Linked DNA regions of Homo sapiens: region 2 is reported to be linked to region 1. Evidence: microRNA targets listed by miRTarBase, many of them from high-throughput screens and not tested one by one. Region 1 holds a microRNA gene; the other region holds the end of a gene's coding sequence.

What was found. Region 1 holds the annotated microRNA hsa-miR-4531 (AUGGAGAAGGCUUCUGA, at 950-966, shown strand). A microRNA usually pairs through its seed, bases 2 to 8, with sites in the 3' UTR of a target mRNA and lowers its output. Matches are read on the target gene's strand: a 7mer-m8 pairs with bases 2 to 8, a 7mer-A1 pairs with bases 2 to 7 and ends in A, and an 8mer does both.
Region 2: the mRNA of MAF is a reported target of hsa-miR-4531. The part of its 3' UTR that is shown has no 7-base or 8-base seed match.

The regions. Positions count from the first base shown.
Region 1 is chr19:44,651,655-44,654,654 of GRCh38, reverse strand. MIR4531 (microRNA 4531) reads left to right here and starts at 923; the gene lies at 923-969. It overlaps PVR (PVR cell adhesion molecule), which reads right to left. Exons shown (of 8, transcript NM_006505.5): 4 at 638-755.
Region 2 is chr16:79,591,990-79,594,989 of GRCh38, reverse strand. MAF (MAF bZIP transcription factor) reads left to right here. Exons shown (of 2, transcript NM_005360.5): 2 at 437-1,152. The coding sequence ends at 530. Among named protein-coding and RNA genes, the nearest start is that of MAF, 7.2 kb to the left of the region's middle.

The DNA.
Region 1 (3,000 bases):
TTTGGAGCCGAGCGCTGATTCAAGGGCCGCTTCTGCCCTCTCGTGGCTGGTCTTTAACCTGGGCAGGGCAACAGCTGCTGACTGTGCACAGCATGGGGTCACATGGGATTCGGGGGAAGTACCGGGCACAGAGCAGGCACACCCCAAAAAGCAGGTGCATCCACCAGCCAGGATTCAACCACCTGCTAAACGCCTCAACCGCAAAACAGAGATGTCAAAACAGAGATGCCCCCCACTGGGGGCCCGAAGTCAACCTCCTCTTTTTCTCTTTTCTGAATCTCCCTCCTCTCTTAGACCAGGAGTCCAGGCCCCAGTCTGTCCTGCCTCAGACCCAGGGGTCCAGGCTCCCAGCTTCTCCTCCCTCAGACCCAGGGGTCCAGACCCCCCAGCCCCTCCTCCCTCAGACCCAGGGGTCCAGGCCCAGCCCCTCCTCTCTCAGTCCCAGGGGTCCAGACCCCCAGCCCCTCTTCCCTCAGACCCAGGAGTCCGGGCTCCCAGCCTCTCGTCCCTCAGACCCAGGGGTCCGGGCCCCCAGCCCCTTCTCCCTCAGTCCCAGGAGTCCAGGCCCCCAGCCCCTCCTCCCTCAGTGCTAGAAATCCAGACCCCCAGCCCCTCCTCCCTGAGACCCAGGACTCACGTGCTCCAATTATAGCCTGTGGGCTCTGGGTTGCTGCGAGCATCGCAGGTCAGGGTGGCCTCATTCTGGCCAAGGTACCAGTTGTTATCATAGCCAGAGATGGATACCTCTGGGGGGTCTGCAGGAAATGGATACAGAGGTTCAGAGACTGGGAGGCTTTGGGGGGCCTGGGGCTACGCGGGATTCACGACACTGCAGGAAAAGGCCCGGGGATATTTGGAAAACAGCGGGAGCTGGAGAGGCCTAGGAGGAGTCTAGGTAGATGGGGTGCCACAGAGAGCAGAAGCCTAGGAGTCCTTGGTCAGTGGGGACATGGAGAAGGCTTCTGAGGAGCTGCTTTTCTCCACTAGCTTTCCTGGGTAGCCTGGACCAGGCATGTCTTGGGTGTCCTGCAGGAAAATGCCTCCTCCTTTTCTCACTCATAGGCAATGACCACTCACAACACACAGCAGTGTATTCAAGGTTCTGACAAGTCCTGCAGGAAAGAGTCCCAGATAACCCTGCTCTAGGCTGCTGCTCAGCCATCCCATACGTGATTGACAGCGAAGACCTTTCAATGTCCTTGGGGGCAGGCCAATGGGACAGGGTTTTATTCGGGGGCGAGGGGTAGGAGTCAGTGTAGATCTCCTCCTCGCTCAGACCCAGTGACAGTGTTGAGGGACTCCAGTATAGACAGTACCTGAGGGAATCTGTGTACCAATTGCCTGGCGGGGAGTAAGCAGTATAGACAATGGTGGGAGGAACAGTATGAATGATGTCTAGAAGAGCTTGTGTGGATATTACTGATGGGTTCAGTGTAGACAGGGTGTTGGAATATTACAGCAGATGCTATATTGTCGGGCCAGTGTTGAAAATGTGGTGGTGGGGGTGAGATCACCCCCACATATACAGTGTGTCCCCGGGAGCTGACGAAATTAAGACAGGCTCTGTGTATGTGTGTAGACAGTATTTGGATGAGCCAGTGTAGATGATGTGGGAGCTTAGTCTAGATCTGTGCTGTCCAATATGGCACCTACTGGCCACATGTGACTACTGAGCACTCGAAATATAGCCAGGCCGAAATACACACCAGATTTCAAAGGCTTTACTAGGACAAAATAAATGGGAAAGATCTCAAGAATAATTTTAAAAAAACAATTACAAGTTGAAATAATATTTTAGGTATATTGGGTTAAGTAAAGGCAATTATTAAAAATTAATTTTGGCCAGGCACAGTGGCTCATGCCTGTAATCCCAGTACCTTGGGAGGTTGAGGCAGGAGGATCACTTGAGCCCAGGAGTTTGAGACCAGCCTGGGCAACATAGGGAGATCCTGTCTCCAGAAAAAATAAAAATAGGCCGGGTGCGGTGGCTCACGTCTGTAATCCCAGCAATTTGGGAGGCCAAGGTGGGTGGATCACGAGGTCAGGAGTTTGAGACCAGCCTGGCCAACATGGTGAAATCCCGTCTCTACCACAAATACAAAAATTAGCTGGGCACTGTGGCCAGGGCTTGTAATCCCAGCTACTCGGGAGGCTGAGGCAGGAGAATCACTTGAACCCGAGAGGCGGAGGCTGCAGTGAGTTGAGATCGTGCCACTGCACTCTAGCCTGGGTGACAGAGCAAGACTTCATCACAAAACAAAAAAACAAAAACAAAAACAAAAACAAAAATTAGCTAGGCATGGTGTCACACGCCTGTAGTCCCAGCTACTCAGGAGACTGAGGCTGAGGTGGGAGGATCACTTAAGCCCAGGAGGTTGAGGCTGCAGGGAGCTGTGCCACTGCACTCCAGTCTGGGTGACAGAGTAAGACCCCGTCTCAAATAAATAAATAGATAAATAAATAAACAAATAAATTTCATCTCTTTCTTTTCTTGTTTTTGAGATGGAGTTTTGCTCTGCTGCCCAGGCTGGAGTGCAATGGCGTAATCTCGCTCATTGCAATCTCCGCCTCCCAGGTTCAAGTGATTCTCCTGCCTCAGTCTCCCGAGTAGCTGGGATTACAGGCACCCGCCACCGTGCCTGGCTAATTTTTGTATTTTTTAGTGAAGACAGAGTTTCACCACATTGATCAGGCTGGTCTTGAATGCCTGACCTCAGGTGATCCACCTGCCTCGGCCTCCCAAAGTGCTGGGATTACAGGCGTGAGCCACCGTGCCTGGCCTCTTTCTTTTAATTTTTTAATGGGGTGGCCGCTGGAGAATTTAAAATCCTATATGCAGCTTGCATGCTATTTCTGTTAGACAGCACTGGTTAGAGAGTCCTGGGGCTGTCAGTGGAGATAAATGTGTGGGTGTCAATGTCGATGATGCCATGAGGGAGCTGGTGGAGGTAACGCTGTGCAGGAGAATCAGGACAGATGCTGTCAGGGGGCTGTGCAGAC
Region 2 (3,000 bases), not on the chromosome of region 1:
CAGTTATCTCATGACAAATGAGGCCTGGATTGGAAGGAAAATATAGTTGTGTAGAATTAAGCATTTTGATAGGAATCTACAAGGTAGTTGAATATAATAAGCAGGTTTGGGCCCCCAAACTTTAGAAAATCAAATGCAAAGGTGCTGGCAAAAATGAGGTTTGAGTGGCTGGCTGTAAGAGAAGGTTAACTCCTAGTAAAAGGCATTTTTAGAAATAACAATTACTGAAAACTTTGAAGTATAGTGGGAGTAGCAAACAAATACATGTTTTTTTTTTCTTACAAAGAACTCCTAAATCCTGAGTAAGTGCCATTCATTACAATAAGTCTCTAAATTTAAAAAAAAAAAAATCATATGAGGAAATCTAGCTTTCCCCTTTACGCTGCGTTTGATCTTTGTCTAAATAGTGTTAAAATTCCTTTCATTCCAATTACAGAACTGAGCCCACTCGCAAGTTGGAGCCATCAGTGGGATACGCCACATTTTGGAAGCCCCAGCATCGTGTACTTACCAGTGTGTTCACAAAATGAAATTTGTGTGAGAGCTGTACATTAAAAAAAATCATCATTATTATTATTATTTGCAGTCATGGAGAACCACCTACCCCTGACTTCTGTTTAGTCTCCTTTTTAAATAAAAATTACTGTGTTAGAGAAGAAGGCTATTAAATGTAGTAGTTAACTATGCCTCTTGTCTGGGGGTTTCATAGAGACCGGTAGGAAAGCGCACTCCTGCTTTTCGATTTATGGTGTGTGCAAGTAAACAGGTGCATTGCTTTCAACCTGCCATACTAGTTTTAAAAATTCACTGAAATTACAAAGATACATATATATGCATATATATAATGGAAAGTTTCCCGGAATGCAACAATTAGCATTTTAAAATCATATATAGGCATGCACATTCTAAATAGTACTTTTTCATGCTTCATTGTTTCTCTGGCAGATAATTTTACTAAGAAGAAAAATAGATATTCGACTCCCCTTCCCTAAACAAATCCACGGGCAGAGGCTCCAGCGGAGCCGAGCCCCCTGGTTTTCTCGTAGGCCCTAGACGGTGTTGCATTTATCAGTGATGTCAAACGTGCTCATTTGTCAGACATAGCTGTAAATGAAAACAATGTGTGGCAAAATACAAAGTTAGTTAAATACACACCCTCTGTGTGATTTTTTGCTCCCTTTTCTTTTTTGCTCCTACTCAAAAAAAAAAAAATCACCTCCTTTACATTTCCCTGGCTTCTTGCATGTTTCCCTTTTCAAAAACCATGTAATAATTTTTTACAATGTATCTGACACATTAATATATTGACATCAAATAGGCAGACATTCTACTTTTGCCTGGCAAATAAATCTGCTACGGAGACATCATTTCCTCACTGTCTCAAAGCCATAACTACCTGGGAGTCTTTCAACACAGACCCCTCCGATGGGAAATGCTGTTTATTACTGAATGCAGGATGCTCACGCTCTGATCTTTTCTCCCTTGTGCCTTTACCCCAGTCATTTTTACTTAGCAACACCAATTCTAGATACTTCTGTTCTGAAGTAGAACCACCCCCTTGCCACACTGCCAGTTTTCCTGCTAAAAGCAGTGGACAGAAGACAGATCATGGTCACCCTCACAAACATGGCACACAGCTGTCTCGGTAGCTGCATTCCCAGCATGTCCTGGTCTAAATATCTAGAGTTGCCTATGACACGTTCAAAGGTTCCCAAGCACAGTACATTGGGAGGCTTTTGCTGCTGTGGCCGTTGTTTTCGTTTAGGCCAACTTACTTCCGTATTCACATACTCTTGGCTTTACGAAATACACTCCTCCAGTCTACTAGGCCAATCAATATATTTAAAAGTCTGATTGCCACATAAGTCTCTCTCTCTCTCTTTTTGTTTTTTGTTTGTTTGTTTTTTTCTGTTTTGGCTGCCGGTAGTTAAAGACTGAGATAGGTTGGAAGACTAAAATACAGGAGTACATGAGTGACAACCTTCAGCCGTCTGATTTCCATGCCGGTAAAACACACAACCAAGCTCTTCTTAGCGCTGCTAATATAAACATTCACTAAGAGGGAATAGGAAGTGAGATTTACCAGCTTCACTTTGCTGATTTGCAAGGTTCCCCACTACGATTCACTGTCATTTGATTTTTGAAAAATAATTTTGTCCGTCTCTTTGAAGAAATGTCTTAGTTCTTTTATTTTGTTTGTTTGGTTTTTTTTAGAGAAGTTTTATCTGCAGTGATAGGCTACAATTTTTATCTCCGCTGATTATTTGTCAGGATGCTGAATGAATAATTTGGTCCTGTGCCTTCCTTGTTGTTCTGAGGAAAATAAGAGAAACTTGGAAGTTTGTTTCACTCTTAGCCCATCCTAAATCTAAAAGAAGATGTCCCAGGTCCAGGCAGGCCATGTAGTAGTTATAAAGGAGGTGGTCCAGGTCCAGCCACCTCAATCAGGATTTGTTTGTTTTGAAGCATTTGCTTAAAAGCGGAGCAAGAGTCTTAACCCAACTTGCCATAACACTGCTTTTCTCGCTTTTGATGTAAATCTTCAAAATTCAGACATCAAACAGCCCCAGAAAAGGGGAATTCTCTCCAGGCATTGCTCCGCCCCAGCTCCTGAACAAACCCAGCTCTGTCTAGCATTTTTTTCCCTAGCGGGGGTAGGGGACAGGGTGAGAGAATTTCAGTCTCCCAGGCTGTCTCATGATTGTTAGGGCATAAAGAAACACAGTCCTGCCACAAATTGGGAGCATCTTTACCCTTTAGAGAGAAACAAAACAAAACTAAACAAACAAATCAAATTGCTTTGCATGAAGGCGTAGCAAATAAAATCTCGGGCTCCCTGTTCCCTGCACCATTTGTAGGAGGTGAGAAATGAGGGAAACAAGAGAAAGGGGAACTTTAAAAGCGGGAGGCCCAGAAATAATCCCTGTTACCAGTCTGAATTTCACTTGCTCCGTGGCTAACGTCAGACCTAGTGTGCATGTATGCCAGAAGTAAACTAGG